6 linked regions of the Homo sapiens genome follow. The gene in region 3 interacts genetically with the main gene of each other region. Each region holds a gene or a part of one and is shown on either strand. Other genes may lie near its edges.

What was found.
Region 1: changes in TRAPPC11 (region 3) and SEC24C together harm fitness less than expected from each alone (positive genetic interaction), as found in Homo sapiens cells (one large-scale study listed by BioGRID).
Region 2: changes in TRAPPC11 (region 3) and SEC31A together harm fitness less than expected from each alone (positive genetic interaction), as found in Homo sapiens cells (one large-scale study listed by BioGRID).
Region 4: changes in TRAPPC11 (region 3) and PTAR1 are lethal when combined (synthetic lethality), as found in Homo sapiens cells (one study listed by BioGRID).
Region 5: changes in TRAPPC11 (region 3) and SLC39A9 together harm fitness more than expected from each alone (negative genetic interaction), as found in Homo sapiens cells (one large-scale study listed by BioGRID).
Region 6: changes in TRAPPC11 (region 3) and TRAPPC10 together harm fitness more than expected from each alone (negative genetic interaction), as found in Homo sapiens cells (one large-scale study listed by BioGRID).

Annotation. Positions count from the first base shown.
Region 1 is NC_000010.11:73,750,872-73,754,371, reverse strand, and holds part of SEC24C (protein transport protein Sec24C), read right to left. Parts: intron 3,265-3,500; coding exon 3,129-3,264; intron 2,656-3,128; coding exon of another isoform or gene 2,649-2,655; intron 1-2,648. UniProt on the Homo sapiens protein: Component of the coat protein complex II (COPII) which promotes the formation of transport vesicles from the endoplasmic reticulum (ER).
Region 2 is NC_000004.12:82,884,654-82,888,153, reverse strand, and holds part of SEC31A (protein transport protein Sec31A), read left to right. Parts: intron 1-3,500. UniProt on the Homo sapiens protein: Component of the coat protein complex II (COPII) which promotes the formation of transport vesicles from the endoplasmic reticulum (ER).
Region 3 is NC_000004.12:183,711,293-183,714,089, reverse strand, and holds the end of TRAPPC11 (trafficking protein particle complex subunit 11), read right to left. Parts: intron 1,491-2,797; coding exon 1,446-1,490; 3' UTR 501-1,445; downstream 1-500. UniProt on the Homo sapiens protein: Involved in endoplasmic reticulum to Golgi apparatus trafficking at a very early stage.
Region 4 is NC_000009.12:69,729,012-69,732,511, reverse strand, and holds part of PTAR1 (protein prenyltransferase alpha subunit repeat-containing protein 1), read left to right. Parts: intron 1-159; coding exon 160-373; intron 374-3,500.
Region 5 is NC_000014.9:69,436,692-69,440,191, forward strand, and holds part of SLC39A9 (zinc transporter ZIP9), read left to right. Parts: intron 1-3,500. UniProt on the Homo sapiens protein: Transports zinc ions across cell and organelle membranes into the cytoplasm and regulates intracellular zinc homeostasis. Participates in the zinc ions efflux out of the secretory compartments.
Region 6 is NC_000021.9:44,085,309-44,088,808, reverse strand, and holds part of TRAPPC10 (trafficking protein particle complex subunit 10), read right to left. Parts: intron 2,008-3,500; coding exon 1,849-2,007; intron 1,111-1,848; coding exon 881-1,110; intron 1-880. UniProt on the Homo sapiens protein: Specific subunit of the TRAPP (transport protein particle) II complex, a highly conserved vesicle tethering complex that functions in late Golgi trafficking as a membrane tether.

The sequences.
Region 1 (3,500 bases), on a different chromosome or scaffold from region 3:
ACAATCTTGGCTCACTGCAACCTCTGCCTCCTGGGTTCAAGCGATTCTCCTGCCTCAGCCTCCCAAGTAGCTGAGATTATAGGTGCCCGCCACCACACCCAGCTAATTTTTGTATTTTTAGTAGAGATGGGGTTTCACCATGTTAGCCAGGCTGGTCTCAAACTCCTTACCTCAGGTGATCCACCCACCTTGGCCTCCCAAAGTGCTGGAATTACAGGTATAAGCCACCACACCCAGCCTCCTCCCATGTACTTTAAATCATCTCTAGATTACTTATAATACCTAATACAATGTAAATCAGGGGTGTCCAATCTTTTGGCTTCCCTGGGCTATACTGGAAGAAGTGTCTTGGGCCACACATAAAATACACTAACACTACACTAATGACAGGTAATGAACTTAAAAAAAAAAACCTCATAATGTTTTAAGGAAGTTTATGAATTTGTGTTGGACCACATTCAAAGCCGTCCTGGGGCACGCAGACTGTGGGCCACAAGTTGGACAAGTGTGATGTAAATGTTATGTAAAGAGTCCAAACTGTGGGAAATTCTTTGGGTTAACTGTTTTCTTCAACAGATAAATACTAAGAAAAAGAAGACAGAGGTGGAGCTTATAGACTTAAGACACACCAAGTGTTTTTCCTGTGGGTAAAACTAAATTGTGGTACGTGGGGTTGTACATTTGAGTGTAAACTTTTTCTTTGTGAGACACAGTCTCGCTGTTTCTCAAGCTCTGGAGTGCAGTGGCGAGATCACACTCAGTGTAGCCTCGACCTTTTGGGCCCAAACGATACCTCCACTTCAGCCTCCCAAAGTAGCTAGGACAACAAGCTTGCCACCATGCCCAGCTAACATTTTATTTTTTGTAGAGATTGGGGTCTCCCTATATTGCACAGGCTGGTCTCAAAAATCTGGGCTGAAGCAATCTTCTCACCTTGGCCTCCCAAAGTGCTGGGATTATAGGCATGAGCCACCTCACCCAGCCAAGTGTAAACTATTTTTAAAAAACCACAAGAAAGTCAGCTGGGCGTGGTGGCTCACACCTGTAATCCCAGCACTTTGGAAGGCTGAGGCGGGTGGATCACTTGAGGTCAGGAGTTCGAGACCAGCCTGTCCAACATGGCGAAACCCTGTCTCTACTAAAAATATAAAAAAATTAGCCATGCCTGATGGCAGGCGCCTGCAATCCCAGCTACTCGGGAGGCTGAGGCTGGAGAATCGCCTGAACCCAGGAGCTGGAGAGTGTAGTGAACCGAGATCACACCACTGCATTCTAGCATGGGCAACAGGGCAGGACTCTGTCTCAAAAAAAAAGAAAAAGAAAGTAATTACTGTAAGAGTCAGGATAATGCAGGATAGTTGTTATTTATGAGGGGAGGGAGAGAATAATGTTTGAATTGGGGCACATGGAAAAGGCTTTTGGGGTGAGTGGCAAAGTTCTATTTCTTCATCTGGGTCGTAGTTGTAGTTACAAAGGAGTTTGCTATATAATAATTTACTAAGGCATATGCTTGTTTCGTATGGGTTTTTTGTTTTGTTTTGTTTTTTTGTGACAGGGTCTTGCTTTGTCACCTAGACTGGAGTGCAGCAGTACAATCATGGCTCACTGCAGCCTTCAACTTGTGAGCTCAAGCAATCCTCCCACCTCAGCCTCCCCAAGTGCTGGTATTAAAGGAGTCAGCCACTGCACCCAGCACGGACCAATGTATTTAAAACAGCTCCCTACCCCCTCACTATATCCTCACCCTGTTTTATAACTTTATGTACATTTGTGTACTTGTTATCTTCTATGTACCCCACTTGTTTGACTTACCCAGGCTTACATTCAATGCTTAAAATGTGTGTTCTGGACACCCAGTTAAAGTGTCAGAAAGTGACTTTTCTATTATCATACCCCTTTCCCACAGTTATATTTTACTCTTTATTTACCAAACACAAACAACACTCCTGACCAGGTGCAGTGGCTCACTCCTGTAATCCTAGCACTTTGGGAGGCCAAGGTGGGCAGATTGCTTGAGCTCAGGAGTTTTGAGATCAGCCTGGGCAACACAGCGAAACCCCATCTCTACTAAAAATACAAAAAATTAGCTGGGTGTGGTGGCGCATGCCTGTAGTCCCAGCTACCTGGGAAACTGAGGTGGGAGGGTCACCTGAGCCTGAGACATCCAGGCTCCAGGGAGTTGTGATCCTGCCACTGCACTCTAGCTTGGGCCACGGAGTGAGACCCTGTCTCAAAAAAAAAAATTAAAAAATTTTAAAAAGCACTCTAATAGAGATGACTGCCCTCCTTTAATGGACTTTCATGCTAAGATGGGTTTATTGGGTCACTGTACCACTGAAGTTTTCACCATTTATGTGGTTTCCCTTTTAGTATCTTTCAGTTCATAACTGGCCATGCCCAAACTTAACCAATCAGTCCTACTAAGTGCCTGTTCTAGAGGAAAGGGGCAAGTCAAAAGAGATGCAAATAATCCTGAAGTTTCCTCTTCCCATTTCTCCCTTAGGGTAGTCTCAACAGGACTGCAACCATTATTGAAGATGTATGTCTAGTAAAGCAAGAAACTCAAGTTCACAGAAAATGAAGAATATGCAAAGGAACCCAGGTACTAAGATGGGTCAATAATCCACAGGGCTGGACGTCAGCAGTACCTGTAACCTGGAAAAAAGAAGACAAAGTACAAAAGGGTAGAGGGAAGAGAAAAAGTGATCTACAAGAAAGGCAAAGGAGAGAAAAAAAACAAAACAAAACACAAACCCCCATACATTCCTAACCTTTCTACTTTCATCAGATCAATTTTATTTATTTATTTATTTATTTATTTATGAGACGGAGTCTCACTCTATCGCCCAGGCTGGAGTGCAATGGCACGATCTCGGCTCACGGCAACCTCTGCCTCATGATTCTTCTGCCTCAGCCTCCCAAGTCTGGGATTTCAAGTGCACACCACCACACCTGGCTAATTTTTTATTTGAGAAAAGAGATGGGGTTTTGCCATGTTGGCCAGGCTGGTCTCAAACTCCTGACCTCAGGTGATCCACCCACCTCAGCCTCCCAAAGTGCTGGGATTACAGGCATGAGCCACTGCACTCAGCCTCATCAGACCAATTTTAGATTGACCAAGTACCTACCTTTGCATCTGAACAGTGGAGCTTGGCCCATTCTGTACATCTCCTTGGCCAAACTGGCCATATGCAGCCTGGCCACAAGGAGCCTGTGCTGTTGAGGCTGGAGGTGCCCCCGAGGAAGGTGGGGCTCTTGACATACCTGAGGGTAAAGGACAGAAACTAAGTGATTGGGAAATAACTTTCTCCTCCACCCTGAGCCAGGAATGCAAAGCAAGGATCAATAAACTCAGACCTTCACTGGCCCAATACCACAGTTTAGGCAGTGAAAAGGACACTACCAGCATACAACTGTAGCTACAGCAGTATTCTAAACACAGATTCCCAACAAGGGGCCTACACTCCCCTAGACAAGCATACTAGGGGTGAAGCTGTAGC
Region 2 (3,500 bases), about 100 Mb from region 3:
ATCTGCCCACCTCGGCCTCCCAAAGTGCTGGGATTACAGGCATGAGCCACTGCGCCTGGCTAATAGATGTTTTTTTTGTTGTTGTTTGTTTGTTTGTTTGTTTGTTTTGAGACAGAGTCTTGCTCTGTCACCCAGGCTGGAGTGCAGTCGCATGATCTCAGCTTACTGCAAGCTCTGCCTCCCGGGTTCACGCCATTCTCCTGCCTCAGCCTCCCGAGTAGCTGGGACTACAGGCGCCCGCCACTGCGCCCGGCTAATTTTTTGTATTTTTAGTAGAGACGGGGTTTCACCGTGGTCTCGATCTCCTGACCTCGTGATCCGCCCGCCTCGACCTCCCAAAGTGCTGGGATTACAGGCGTGAGCCACCGCGCCCGGCCTAATAGATGTATTTTTGAAGTTTCGTGGTGGTAGACGTTTTAAGTAGTGATGTTTGTAATAACTGTCATTTATGAGCATTTGTTTATATATGCCAGGCACTGTTCTAACCACTCTGAGTAATACCACTTATTTCTCACAACAACCCTGTAGTATAGATACTGTTCTCCTTATTTTAATGAGAGAGGAGCCAGGACATACATGGATAAAGCGACATGATTAAAGTCAGAGGTGGACATAGTGAAGCTGGAATTTAAACTGAGGGTGTCTGCCCTAGACCCCATGCTCTTAATTGCCGTGCTATAGATACTGTCTTGGAGATGGCATGTATGAACAAGCCCACACAATTTTCTTTTCCTTTCTTTTTTCTTTTCTTTTCTTTTCTTTTCTCAATGTTTTCTTAGAACATTGAGTACTAAGGCTAAGAAATAAACTTTAGTAAATGCTTTGAATTCACATTTAACTATTTTATGTTCTTATAAATGTGTCTCTTTCTTTTTCAGTCAATGTTACACATTAACCAAGCATTAATGAATTAGGTAGTCCTTGTACTTAGGTCTTAGAAATACTATAATTGTATTCCATTTTTTTAATAATACAGCTATTTTGATTTCACTTTTAGAAATTATTCTGAAGGCATCTTATAACCTTTTCCCCCTTAACCATACTTTCTCCTTTTTTAAAAAGTAAATGATCCTTTAAAGAGTTAAGAATTTAAAAGTAAATGTTTTATCTGAAACTGGTCACTCTAGCTCATTAGTCTACTTGTTTTCCCCTAAATATAAACATTTAAAATAAATCAAAACTTTCTGTATATCTCCTTCTGTGCTAAGCAATTTTGAGTCTAAAAAGGGGTAAAAGTTTTGAAAAAAGACGTTATTTGTCTAGTTGGTGAGATAAGATAGCACATAAGGCAACTGGTTAAAAAAAGGTAATTGGAAAATATGTAAACAATATGTGCTAGTAGAATGTTACAAAATGTTTATTAAAATATAATGACGTTATTATAAAATGCTTAAATCATAGTATTGACAAGTACAAACTTGTCGGGGAGTATTTAGATCAATGTGGATTGAATCATCAGGGCAGTTTTCATGGAGGAGCTGGAACTTGAATTTATTATTAAAGATCAGGTGAGACAGTTGGCAAAGAGGAAGAAGAGGAGATTCATGTAAGAAAATAAATGCCTTTTTTATATCTTAGAAAGTTGGAATTTTTCCCCCCAAATAACCCTGAAGTTTTCTTGTTTAATCTCATGATAGTGGTAATCTTTAAAAATAGCAAACCTATCAAAAGCACTAACCCATGTGCTGAGCACTTTTTTTGGCTCCCTATTATAAAACGTATGATCTCATTGGAACCTCACAGCATCCCATGAGGTTGTCACTCTTTTCCCTATTTTACGAATGTAGAAACTGGGGCTCAGGGAGGTTAAATAATGTGTCCAAAGTATCATAGCTAATAAGTAACAGAGCCAGTAGTTAAATTGAGGATTAACTCCAGAGACCATGCTTTTAACCATGTGATACATCCTGCCTCCTAATCTCACTTTGCTCTAACCTAACACAATTTCTAAAATGCATTTCTTCAGTTTCATCATGCATGCTGGTTGCTTTGTTATTGTTTCTTCTAAATGTTAATATTTCCTCTATGATATAAAAATTGAATACCTGAACTTGTTGGAAGTAGAAAGAACTCTGGAGCTAAACTTGCAAGTTCCAATCTTGGCTCTGCCCCTTGCCCCCTTGCTAGCATGTACAGATTGTCTAACTTTCTGTGTCTTAATTTTTTCCTCTATAAAATCTCCTTCAAATATAAACAATTTGCAGGTACAAGACTCGGAGCATATGTTTAAGGCAATCTTAAGGAAAATGTTAGAGGATAAACTCTGGAGCTGAGTAAGGAAACTGGCAAAAATACTCTTGGAGAGCATTGAGTATGCATTTTAACTGCAGGACTGAGACTGGAACAAAAGTGAGAATGAGGAAGAAAGAATAAAATGTAAATGTTAAATGTCCAATAATGTAAGGGATTGATTATACAACTAATAAAAAGAGAAGAGGAAAGAAATTGGAGGTAGAATAAGTTTGTGAATTGCCACATCTGTAATGGCTATGAGTCAAAGGACATCATTTAAAGCTGACAGATCAGTTAGTAGAAGTATAAGGAGTTCAAAGGTAAACACTGAGAAAGATAATACTATTGACTATAACCATGTTGTGTGGATGGGCAGTAAGATTATACAAGCTAATTTCATAAGTGCTCATAGTAGGGAGTTAATAGTTTCTGTGTAAAGAAATAGAGGATTAATGGTATTAAGTAAAATATTTAAAATTACAGTTAAAAAGATAGAATCAGAAACACATATTATAATGAAAATATACATCATCCTAATTATCAGAAAAATGGTAATTGCACAAAAAAGAAAACAGACAATGAAAGACTTTTTAAAAATTATTACCCAAAGATATTAAACCAAAGTAAAATATGGTAAAACTAAGACCAACCATGTCTGTCATGTCAATACATTTTAAATGTCCTTAGCTAACCTACTGTGAAAAGATTTTCAAATTGGATCACCAGTAAAATCTGTTGGTTTTTTGTTTGTTATTTTGTTTGTAATGATGACAAAGTAGTTCTGAAGGGCAAAAGTATACATGTAAAGGCAAACAAGAGGTGGAATTCAGACCAAAAGTCATTATTTGAGACAAAGAAGGATATTCATAAAGCTAAAGTGTATATTTGACAGTGAATTTGAACATTATGGATATGCACCAAATAACTATTAAATAACAAAGTAATTTTCATAAAGCAAAAGTTTCAGGAGATACCATGAGAAATTGACATAAATATATTAGCAGTAAGAGACTTAATTCACTGTTTCGGTCCAAGGCAGATCAAGTGGACAAAAAAGTAAGGATATAGGAGATCTAAACAAATCAATAAAGAGGACTTAGTTAATATATATTGAGCTCTAGGCCCTGAAAACAGAGAGCACCCCTTCTTTCTAGGTCCCAAGAACAATTCACAAAAATTCACTATATAGGCTCTATTGAAAGGAAAGGAGGAATTATAGGCATAGGGGATTTTAGGACAAGGGAACTACTCTGTGTGATACTATAATG
Region 3 (2,797 bases):
AAGTGAATACCCTCTTCAGCCTTCCCATAAAAATATAGATGACACTGGCTGAGCACCCTCATACATAACTTTGGGTCTGGCACTGTTCCAAGCTCTTCTCATGTATGAATCTATATCATCCTTCATAACAAGCCTATAAGATGGGTGTTATTTACATCTTATATACAAGAACGCTGAGATACACAGAGGGTAAGGAACTTGAACAACGTCACCCAGACAAAAGCAGCAGAGGAGGGATTTGATCCTAGACAGCTGGACTCTAGAGTCATGCTCCATGGCCTCTACCTGAAAAGCCATGTTACAACAGGGAGCTCATGTCCTCCCAAGATAGCACTGTCCAACTCTCACATAATGTTACCAGAGCCAGTTCTAGAACACAGCCCAATTTTCAATCCTGTGCTTGCCATTGCATCTCATGCAACAGTGTTCTTAGTAAAAGCTGTTCCATGAAGCTGAAATCAAACAAGCTCAAAATAAAAGATAGAGACAGACAAGCATACTTGAAAGAGAACATGTTTATTTACATCACTATTTCCTTTTTACAATGCCTCCACCTTTTGAATAATAAAATTTTCCAGGAAATCAGGTCATTTTAAATTATTAAGGTATTTTAACAAATACAATTTTCACCCTATGATTTTTATTTACATGAGTTTTCAAGAGTTTTAAATAGTTCTTTTGAAACTGCACAATATAACCAGAAGGCCTGACTCAGACCCTGCATCTTTTCCAAAAACTTTCAGTCTAGGAAATTATGTTTATAATCAAATCCTTGCACTTTGGATCTTTTCCGATGAGGATTTTATTAACACCTCTAAAATATGAACCTGCTTCATAAATGATCCATATTTTGGCAGCAAGCTGAACCTATTTGACACTTCTTGATAGTAAGCAAAGATATTTTTGATACCTTAATTAAACTGCTTTGATTAAAACTTTCTGGAAGTTTTCCGTATCAGTCATACAACTCCCTATGTTGTTGTGTATGTGTTCTGAGTACACACTGAATTTATGAGAATGATTTATTTCCGGTCTGGCCAGCTCTGAAAGAGACACATGGGGGATTCGGAACTTTATGGCACAGGCACTGGTGCATCTGCTCTCTTTGTCCAGTCACACTTGGGATGCTTAATTTTCCTGATATTATACATGCAAATCACTTACTTTTCATAGAATTTACCATTCATCAAATGACTTTCAACAATAACAATGGTCTGACATTCTTTCATGTCGTACTGAGATTTCAGATATTTATTAGAGAAACTATAAGACAGATTTTCCTAATATTTTTGAAGTATGAGTTCCTCTGAATAGTTGGTATAACATCCATTAAAAAATAGAAAAGGTTAACTTTTTACCATGATCAAAGCTAGAGTTCACAATGAAACACCTGCATAGCTCTGCCCAACATCTCTGTAACAACAGCCAAGGGCCGGTCTTGAACATCATGCAGCAGCAATAGAGGTATCATCCATGAGTCGACCCTGTGGCTTTAAAGTGGGAAAAACAAAGTGGGTTTACAAAATTATAATATAATAACAAAAGCTCTATTAACTGGAAGGATTTTTAAATTCTTGAAACTGTTTTACAAAAACAGAATAAATGAGTGTAAGCATCAAAATAAAAATGGTGATATGGTGATTCTCCTCCTTTCACCCCACCTCTTTCTTTCTTCACTTGCACCTGGGGATGGCCACGGCACAGGCTGGGAGCTGCCCTCTCCTGTAGCCATCACCAGCTGACTCTGCACTTCCACCCGAAGAATCCTCTTCTGTCAGTACTTCTCTCTCAACCCTGCGTTCCAGCAGCTACTGCCAGGCCATCTCCCACATGTGGAATGGAACCTTGTTTATCATTCCTACTTAACTGATAGTTTTATTCTCTCTCTCTTGCTCAGGGCCCTCCTGTGTCTCAAGCTTTAAGCAGGTCCAGAGCCTGAGCTGACAGGTAAGTTCCTTTTGGGGACTCAAGGTTGCCCAATCTCCTGTTTGAGAAAAAGTGTCTGCAGTGAACTCCAATGCATGCTGCAAGGATAAAAGTGGCAGATAAAAACAAAAACTGCCCTATCTCTAAGATCACTGATTGAAAGAATTTAAAACATCACGTCAGAAAAGTCAAGACTAAGAATGAATAAAAGGTATCGTAACTGTTTTTAGTTGTAAAATTTCTGGCAGGTTAACAACATCCCAGAGGGATAGCTAGTAGCTAAAAGAATACAATTCTTACAAATAATTTTATTTTATTATACAGATATACAATAGCAGACCTTTGTGGGGAAAGCAGGAGAAAGATGATCAGGAAATGAAACAGAAGAGTGTTCACAATCAAAAGTGATTTGCTATGCTTTAAGCAGAAAGATTCTGAGGCATTCCCGAGGCAGTGAAGACAGCACTCCTGCTTTCAGTTTGCTGCTGCTGTGGTTGTTCAGATGTATATAGCAGTGTGTGTGTACATACATACAGAAACATAGCTAAGTATAGCTTCCAGACATTCACGGCAGGAATGGAGTGAGTGAAATAGGTTCCCGATCCTTGATTCTTGACTGTTTTTTTAGTACTGATGGGAGCTGCTCAATTTTAGAAACAAAATCATGGCTCAAGCTAGTGAAATCCCTGCCAAATGTAGCTTTTACAAGCAAGAGCAAAAAATGAGTGCATCATACAATTAGAAAACCAAAGCCTTTTATTCAAAGGAAGAAAAGTATGGATTCATCCTTGCCTAGGACGTCACTGTCTGGTATGGCAGTCGCTAGTCACATTTAGCGATTGAGCACTTGAAATGTGGCAGTGTAACTAAG
Region 4 (3,500 bases), on a different chromosome or scaffold from region 3:
AAACAACCCCTCCCCATCTCCAAAATACTAGACTTATAAACAGGTATTATTTTGCATTGTCTCTGAATGGAAATTAAATTAGGAACAATGAAAACTGGTTATTTTTCTCTCTGGTTTATGTTCTTTCTGTGTTCTCTTTCCCACATGCTGCCTTAACAGGCGATGGGTGCTACAACAGCTAATTCAGGAAACCTCCTTGCCTTCCTTTGTGACCAAAGGAAACTTGGGAACAATTCCCACAGAAAGGGCACAGCGACTCATACAAGAAGAGATGGAGGTCTGTGGTGAAGCAGCAGGGAGATACCCAAGCAACTATAATGCTTGGTCCCATCGCATCTGGGTTTTACAGCACTTGGCCAAGCTAGATGTCAAGGTAGGAATATTACTGTCTCCTGGGCAGACTGCCTGTCTGCCCTTAAAATCTTCTGGTAGTAGTTCATTCTCAGAAGAGCTTTGAAGGAGTAGAGAAACTGATGGTCTGGCAACTTGAGAGAATCGCAACAGCTGCTACCTCTGGAGGAACCCTGTAATTAAATAAAAAGCTTGCATTCCCCACTAGTGCTGTTTTTGGCAGTCTTAAGGCTAGTGCATTGGTAAAGCAAGGCAGGTTTAACCAACTGAGGAAGATTGAGCATAACTCACTTTATCCTGAAACAGGAAGGGATTATTAAGCCTTATAGAACTGGAATTGCTATTTCTTGGTAGTGTTTGGTTATGTGACAATATACTAAGTCAGCTGGCTGTCTTTTCACACTCTCGTCCTCTGAAAAGGGGGAGAGGAGGGCAGGGATAGACAATCTCACCCAGGTGTTTTTAAAATTGGCTGAGCCTATAAATTACCTGGGGATTCCTAAGTTCCACTCCAAGCCTACTAAAGCAGAATGAGGGTGGATCTAGAGATCAGTATTTTCCACTGACTCAGGGTTATTTGAATGCAGAGCCAGTTTGGAAACTCTCACAGCCTAATCCTTTCAGTTTAGAAATGAGGAGATGGAGATTTCCAGAGAATTTTAATGGCTTAGACTTAGCTACAGTTGTACCACTTATTATTCATCAGAATGAGAGCCACATGTCCCTTTTGCTCCTTATATACTACGGTGTCTCAGTTTTTTCTTTTCTGATGGCGTCACAGTGCCATAAGAATCTAGGGTGCTCATCTAAAAAGCTTCTCAGGCTTGAGACAGTTAAAAGAGGTCAAGTTGAAGATTGAAGTGCCCCAGGTGATGCTTTCAGATAAGTGGGGAAGTGTTATGTAATTTTAACTTACCACCCTCTTCTTCCTACATCCCTCTTCCCATGCTCCCATTTCTCTCTTTGTTTCCTGGCCAGGGCAAATGGGAGACTTTTTACTTCCAGAGGATTTTAAGCCAATAATTCTGGAAGAGAAGCCTTCCCCATTCAGTTTACATGGCTTTGAGTTTCAGGAGGGGTGGCCGCCTAATGGAATAGAAAGAACCAAGGCTCAGAATCACATCAACCTAGGTTCAGATTTTGGCCCCACTACCTATATGTGGAAAGCAAGGTTTTATTGTTTTCATTTATAAAATAGGGACTCTACTGTCTGCCTCAGTGGATTATTGTGAGAGTTAATTGAGTTAATGGATGTAAATTACTGGGCATCTAATAGAGAGAGATTCACTCGATTTTAGTTCCTTTCTCTGTTCTCCAGAGATAGAAAATTGGCTACCAGTTTGCTTGATCAACTCCGTGCAATTTATTGATGAAAAAGTATAAAACCCTATCATACCCACCGACTGTCCTGTATACGCAGTAAAACAAAGTGTTTGCTCTCAACAAATTGAAAATCTAGTTGAGAAAGTAGACCAACAATTACAAAGCATCAGAATACAATGGGAGCACAGAAAAATCGTTCTTCATCTAGGATGCGCTCGTTGGAAATAGCTGCCGGGGGAAGGAAGATACATTGAGTTGGGAGGCATGATTACAAGTTGTTTGGTGGGTTGTCAGGGATATGGAGTGCTTGGTGGTCATCTCAGATCCATGACTTGATAGTGTGTGGGAAGAGGAAAGAGATATGGGGAGGATTGGGGATAAAAAGGAAGGCGGAGTCCAGGTTGACTGAGAGATCTTTGGAAATTTTTCTGCCATGATGTGGACCTTTACAAGTGGCATTTCCATAAAATCAGGAACAAGGGGCCAAAGTGAAATTTTTGGTTACTTGAGACCATCTGGTGGTAAAGATAACTCATTAATGGTGAGTTATAACTCATTAATGGTGAGCTCAGCTGCCAGGGTCCACTCCTGGGTTCAGATGTCATCATCCTTCCTTGACCCGCCCTTGGAGGAAGACTTACCATTCTTCCATTCACCACTTGCCACTGCAACATCTCTTGCTCTTGTTGTCAGTGAGGAGTCCTAAATTTGCAAAATCCCCTTTCTGTTGTTATAAGCCATTGGGCCCACCTAGAACATTTACTACTATGCTTTGTCTGTTACAGGAGGTAATCACAAAAATACCAGTAGTCTAAATCAGCTTAAAAATATATATGAAATGAGCCAGCATTTTTTAACTTAGGAAATTGAAAATGACTTTTTAAAGTGCTGGCATCGAGTATTAGTAAGAGTATGAAAATGAGCATTATTCAAATTGTTATAAGCTTACTGAAGGGCAACATGGCAGCACTTATCACACTTTTAAAAATAGGGTGTTATTTTTAAGAGTTCTGCTTCCAGGAATTCATCATAAAGAAATAATGGAAGATGAAGTATGGTAGAATGATTAGAAGCTTCACTCAGTGGTCATGCAGACCTGCTTTGCATTCTGGCTTTACCACCAATTTGCTGTGTAGCCTTGAGGAAGTTGCTTAGCCTCTTCAACCTTCAGTTTTCTCATCCGGAAAAGGAGGGTGACAATAATTCCCATCTCACTGAGTGATGCAAATTGAAAGGGAGGATTCATATAAAGTGGCTATCAAAGTGCCTTAATTAAGTGCTCAATAAACACTGGCTATTAAATATAGAAGTTTGATATATAAAAGTAGCATTTATAGTAGTGAAAAACTAGAAAAGCTGTAGCCCTTCAATAATGAGGGAATTGTTAGATTACAATCCATCACATTGGAATATTTTGTTATGACTAAAATGTATATTTTGGAAGATGATTTAAAGGAAAATATTCACAATAGGTTATATTAGGGTAGGCCTAATATTATTATTTATTTATTTATTTTTGAGACAGGGTTTTGCTCTGTCGCCCAGGCTGGAGTGCAGTGGCACAATCTCAGCTCACTGCAACCTCCGCTTCCCAGGTTCAAGCGATTCTCCTGCCTCAGCCTCCCAAGTAGCTGGGATTACAGGCACCCACTACCACGCCCAGCTAATTTTTATATTTTTAGTAGAGACGGGGTTTCGCCATGTTGGTCAGGCTGGTCTTGAACTCCTGACCTCAAGCAATCCACCTGCCTCTGCCTCCCAAAGTGCTGGGATTACAGGCATGAGCCACCACACCCAGCAGCCTAATATAATTTTTAATGTATTTA
Region 5 (3,500 bases), on a different chromosome or scaffold from region 3:
AAAGAACCCCTCTCTCAGCTCTTTCCTCTCCAGTGTTCCTTCCACATTGTTTTGCAAACAGACCCCATTTTCCTGGTCCTCTGTCAAGAAAGACAAGGTTTCTCTATAGAGCTGTGGCTGCATGCAACACTACATGTGTTGCCACCACATAGTTCCATGTGACTTGGGCTTCTATCAAAAGAAAGTAACAGCAGAAAAGGCAGAACAGCATAACCAGGTTTCCCCCATACACTTCAGACCACTGGGATCCCTTGCTAGCTCCGCCTCCCGGGTTCATGCCATTCTCCTGCCTCAGCCTCCCGAGTAGCTGGGACTACAGGTGCCTGCCACCACACCCGGCTAATTTTTTGTATTTTTAGTAGAGACGGGGTTTCACCATGTTAGCCAGGATGGTCTTGATCTTCTGACCTCATGATCCACCTGCCTCGGCCTCCCAAAGTGCTGGGATTACAAGCGTGAGCCACCGCGCCCGGCCTGGGATCCCTTTTTCTATTTGCTCTGGCCAGAAAGATGGGGTTTTAACTGCCTTTGTTGCCACCATGCAGTTCTGCAACTGGGGCTGCCTTAAAGGCAGGACCAGGAAAGAAAAAAGAGGAGGTAGAGAAAAAAAGGGGAGACTTTCCTGTACTTCACTACCTCTTAGCAACCTCTTTTCCTGGTCCTTTGGCCGGAAAGACAGGGTTTTTCTAGAAGTTTTTGCTGCCTTGCCTTCACTTGCTGTTGTTTACTTTTTGTAGTCCTGAAGTAGTTGTTTTTTGGTGTGTTTTGTCCAGTTTTTGTTGTAATCAGTGGGTGATTGACGTCAAAATGCTCTTACTGTAACATGGCCAGCATCAGATGTCTCCAACATTCCTTTTAAAATGTAAAATGTTAATACCTCTGTTAAAGAAGTTTTTTTGTTTGTTTTTTTTTTTTTGAGACGGAGTCTCACTCTGTCGCCCAGGCTGGAGTGCAGTGGCACCATCTCAGCTCATTGCACCCTCCACCTCCCGGGTTCAAGCAGTTCTCTGCCTCAGCCTCCCAAGTAACTGGGATTATAGGTGCCTGCCATCATGCCCAGCTAATTTTTGTATTTTTAATAGAGATGGGTTTCACCATCTTGGCCAGGCTGGTCTTGAACTCCTGACCTCGTGATCCACCTGCCTCAACCTCCCAAAGTGCTGGGAAGAGTAACTCAAAAAAATCTGTGAAGTAACTTAACCATGATATTACCTTTCAGCTAAGCTGTCTCCAGATTTTTTACATCTTTCTTCATACTGATGAGTTTAGACATATCATTGTAATTTTGTTTTTGCTGCTTTACTCTCTCTTTTCTTACCCTCTTCCCTTACCCTTTTTTTTTTTTTTGAGACAGAGTTTTGCTCTTGTCACCCAGGCTGGAGTGCAGTGACACCATCTCGGCTCACTGCAACCACCGCCTCCTGGGTTGAAGTGATTCTCCTGCCTCAGCCTCCCTAGTAGTTGGGATTACAGGCACCTGCCACTAGGCATAGCTAATTTTTGTATTTTAGCAGAGACGGGGTTTCACCATGTTGGCCAGGCTGGTCTTGAACAACTGACCTTAGGTGATCCACCTGCCTTGGCCGCCCAAAGTGCTGGGATTACAGGCATGAGCCACCGCGCCTGACCCCCCTCTTTCTTTATTGTAGACCAAAACAACTTTTCTTCGTACTTCAAGAAAGACGTTTGTATACATGTTACTACAGCCTATGGTTTCGTTCTTCTGTGGACCTTATAATTATAATACATTGTTTTCAGAACTCAGTATATCATGTTAACTAAGTGCTCTGATGCTTTAATAAGCATTATTAAATACTAATTAATGTAAAAAGGAACCTCTTACTCTTCTGTAATTATAGCTCTAAAATCACTGGAATTAGATGATTATCAGCTTTCACGTAAAAAAAAACTGTCTATAGAAACAAGTTTTAAGAACTTCAAAGATTGTTGGGTAATGCAGCACTTTACTGTGCAGCCAAAATTTGAAAACATCTCAAAATTCTTTGGACTGTTAGAATTGGTATGTTTAGGAAGGTAGACTATTGGGTCAAAGATGAAAATATAAATGTGATGTATTGTCAAAACTGCTATTGTCAGCCATGGCTCAATGTAGATTATCCCACTCATTTTTATCAGTTCTGTAAGAATGCCATGTATCAGATTCTTTATAGAGGTATGATTAACTGTGGCTTTTTCTGTCACTTTACTCTACATTAAATAAAATATAGGGGGCCCTAGCCAGAACAGTCAGGCAGACAAAAAAGATAGAAGGCATTCACATTGGAAAGGAAGAAGTAAAGTTGTCTCTGTTTTCAGGTGAGATGATCTTATGCATAGAAATACCTAAGGATTCCACACACAAAAAAATTAGAACTAATAAACAAATGCAGTTAAGTTGCAGGATACAAAATCAGCATACAAATATCAGTTGCATTTTTATACACTAACAATGAACTATTTGAAAAAGAAACTATGAAAACAATTTCATTCATAATAGCATCAGAGGGGGAGGGAAAGCATTAGGAGATATACCTAATGTAAATGAGGAGTTAATGGGTGCAGCACACCAACATGGCACATGTATACATATGTAACAAACCTACACGTTGCGCACATGTACCCTAGAACTTAAAGTATAATTTTTAAAAAAATAATAATAGCATCAGAAAATAAAATAAAATAAAATACTTGGGCATAAATTTAACCAAGGAGGTAAAAGATCTATATGCTGAAAACTATAAAACATTGATTTAAAAAATTGGAGAAAATATAAGTAAGGTATTCTGTGTTCATGAATTGGAAGAATTAATATTGTTAAAATATCCGTAGTACCCAAAGTGATCTACAGATTTAATGCAACCCCTATCATAATTCCAGTGGCATTTGCTATGGTTTGGATATTTGTCCCCTCCACATCTAGTGTTGAAACTTGATCCCAGTGTTGGAGGCGGGGCCTGGTGGGAGGTGTTTGGGTCATGAGGGTGGATCCGTCATGCACATATTGGTGCTATCCCCTTGCTGATGAGTGAGTTCTCCCTCTATAATTTAACAAGAGAACTGGTTGTTTAAAAGAGCATGGCACCCCTCCCCTCTCTCGTCTTGTGAAATACTGACTCCTCTTCCCCTTCTGCAATGATTGGAAGCTTCCTGAGATCCTCAGATTCGTGCTTCTTGGACAGCCTGCAGAACTGTAAGCCAAATAAACCTTAATAGAACGATCCTAAAATTCATATGTAACCACAAAAGGCCCTGAAGCCGGGGTAATTTATAAAGGTCAATTAAAGAGGTTTAGTTGACTCACAGTTCAGCATGGCTGGGGAGGCCTCAGGAAACTTACAATCGTGGCGGAAAGCAAAGGGGAAGCAAGGCACCTTCTTCACAAGGCCGCGGGAAGGAGAAGTGCTAAATGAAGAGGGGAAGGGCCCCTTAAAAACCATCAGATCTTGCAAGAACTCACCATGTAGTACACCTGTAAACCCAGCTACTCGGGAGGCTGAAGC
Region 6 (3,500 bases), on a different chromosome or scaffold from region 3:
CCGCCAGCGCCAGGGAAGAGTGGGATAACACGGCACACAGCACAGGTGCCACCAGCGCCAGGGAAGAGCGGGATAACACGGCACATAGCACAGGTGCCACCAGTGCTGCGCGCTCCTGCTGAGCTAAGCGCCACCTTCGTGAATGGTGAACGTCTGTGTGAGTTAAGGGAAAGACACTTCCTCAGGTTCTTCAAAAGCTGAACATTACAACATTCGTCTTCAGGCGTGGACTTGTCTGGTGACTCCGTGCTTTGGAAAGACGGCATGCCTTGCCCTTTGCCCCCGCTGCTCTTGGGCGTATACTGCGGCCCCTGGGCTGTTTCAGGGCCCTCAGGATTGATTTCTGGGCTACGAGACTTGGGCACACCCTGAGTAACATGATGCAGCGACACATTCCATGAGCTGATATCCTGTGGCTCTGGGACCGAAATCACATCTTTCTCAAGTAACTGTCAGTAAGTACCAGCACCAAAGCCTAAAATGAGACAGCTCCTCCGTGGCTGAGCTTATGAGTTTCAGTGGACAGACACCGAGGCACACACGACACAGACCTCCTCTGGCCTCGTCACCGGTCTAATGGACATGACCCAAGTTTTACGCCCCTCATGCCTAAGCCGGCCCTAACCTCTTACAGCAAACTCCCTGGCCCCTGGAACTGAGAGGGAAAGGTAGAGCTGGCTTGTCTCTGCCCTTGCAAAAAATGCACCCCTTATCTAAGAAAGGGTGATTCACAGACAGACAGAACTGCTAAACACATGCCCAGGGCATCGGGAATCAGAAGGAGCCAGGCTAACAGCAGGCATCGCTACATCGCCTTTCCCAGCAGGCAGGCGGGCGGCGGACGCCCCACAAGCTAAGCTCCTCCACTGTCCCTACTCACTTTGTGGTCTGTGGTAACCATGCAGCGGCCAGTTCTCTGTTTGTCCTTATGCTTCCTGTGGGGCTCTGCCATCCCCAGCATGTCACTCTCCCCTCCGAGTGCTGGGGCTGAAGGTAAAGAGAGAACTTCCAGTTCAAATTCGATCACGTGGTACGCAGGCGCAACAGGCAGACTGATGCTCGTGACCTTGTCGGAGGACTGAATCCGGAGCGCGGCCTCAGAAGACTGTTCTACGAAGGACAGAAAAAGTCACTTCAAAGCTGTTCCCTCGGTTTCACTTGTCCTTTTCCTTACAGCAGGTGATGGCCCAGCAGTGAGGCCACTGCTCAACCTCTCCCGCTCCTGCGCACCTGGCAGGCAAACCCAAGAACAAGGCCCCTAGGACAGAGCAGCCCTGTGTGAAAGCCGGCAGGCAGGCGCCCAGACCCATCATTGATCTCAATCTGAAGAGAGGAAAAGGGCATTTCCCACGGGGCCCACCCAAGTCCTGTGTAGGTCCCTGCATGACTTTCTCCCGTTCCAGCTCATCCGCAGATCCACCCCCACCCCAGGGGAGCAGGGTCCTCCCCTTCCCCTTCCTCGTGGCTGGGAGGATGGGAGTGCTCAGGGCTCTCAACAGCACCTGCAAGGGCTGCTCTGCTTTTGCTTCTCGGGAGCAGGGCCAGCCCAAGGGGGACAGGGTCTGGCAGGCATCACCATGGAACGTGACCCCAGCCGTGACCCCCATCTCCTAATCCTCAGCCAGACAAGCACTGCTCGGCCACTCAGCGTGTGAACCACTCTCAGTTTATCACCTCAGATGGGACCCCAGCACAGGCATCAGGCCGCAGGGCTCCTATGGAACACGGACTCCAGACACTGTTGAGGGGCGCTCAGCAGGATGGCAGCAAGGCCAGGCTCACCCTCACACCCACACAGTGCAGGGCAAGGTGGGCATCCTCCTTGGGCCTGGGTGGGCGGCACCTCACCTCTCGTGTTGGAGTAGACCACAGCCCTGCTCTCCGCCTGGCACAGGATGAGCATGGCTTCGGCATTGCTAAGCTGCAGGCTGTCTCCATTCTTTATCGTATAATGGCCGGTAGTGACAGTGAACTTGACTCTCTGAGGAATGCCTGCCAGAAGGCTATCTAAAGGAAAAGAGATCGTGGCTCAGCACCGCTGCCAACCGGAAGACAGCATCTCAGGGCCCGCAATGGGGTGAAAGGGGCTCTATTTCTTTTACTATGAAAGATTTGCTCCTTTGGGATCTCCATGAATTCCTTCTACTTCCATTCCCTTCTGCCCTAACTTTTCATCTCAATGATGTGGACTACAGGGTTGAAGGAGAACCTTGCTGGGGAAAAAAGAATCCTGTGAGTCAAGGAGTCTTATACCCATCTTGGTTCAGCAAGTCAGGGATTATGATCATGACTACGTCTCTGAGGGTCACAAAATTTGCCTGCCCATTAGTAGTAGAAGAGAATCACATAATGAGGCTTAAGAAGAGACTGTAAAGAAAACTTGACTGTGCTGGTGCTGCTCAAATATTCAAAACCTTCTCTGGATTTTTCAGCTTCAGGCCACGGGCTTTTGGGTTAAGAACAGTCAGCAGTCAGGTGGCTCCCCCTCACTCCAAGACAGCAATGAGAGGCAGGAGTGAGCTGAGGCCTCTGAGAATCCTGCTGCAGGGAAGACAGAAGGCAGGCAAGATACCAGGACCGGGGGGAGAGTGGACAGAGACAGGGGACACTAGGCAGGAAGCAGGAGCCAGGCCATGAGCCTGGCACTGCAGCCGCTGGGCCATGGGGAGGGCAGGGCCTGCTGGCTGGTGCTTCGGCTCCCCTGCGGGAATCGAGTTCAGCTTCTCTACACAATGTTCCAATGGAAGAATCACTGGAGAGACTGACTGCTGTGTCCCACATCTGACAGCCTTTGCTGGTGGCCACACAAGAGGCACAAATGCAGAAAAATAGGGGGAATGGGGGAATAACAGAAAAATGCCCTTTGTGATTTTTTTCCACGTAGAAGAAACAGGCAAATAAATAAATCGTTGCTAGCCCGAACAAAGGAGACATTCACTCACTCTTGTTCAGCTGCCACATGTTCTTCAATCATTTGTTTATAGCAACTCCTTCCAATTTTAGAACTTATCAGAAAGGACAATAGCTTTGAATTTCTCAAATGCCATGCCAGACGGACAAGTTTAATCAACCCTTTCAAAGGAAAACTTTTTTTTTTTTTAAGAGATGGAGTTTTGTTCTGTCACCCACGCTGGAGAACAGTGGCGCAATCACAGCTCCCTGAGGCCTCAAACTCCTGGGCTCAGGAGGCTGAGGCAGGAGCCTCAGCTGGGGCTCCAGCCTGTAGCTAGGACTAGAGGCCGTGGCGCACGACTACACCCAGCTAATTTACTTCATTTTTTTATTTTGCAGAGATGGGGTTTTGTCATCCTGCCCCGACTGGCTTACCCATGCTGGTCTCAAAGCCTTGGCCTCCCAAAGTGCTGGGATCTGAGTATAGATCCTAACTAAATCTAGTGTTTAGCATTTGAAACGTACTTCTAAGCAGGAAATTATATACATATTTATGAAACCCTGTGGTAGACATTAGCTGCTTCTTGGCCTAATGTGACACTGTAAAA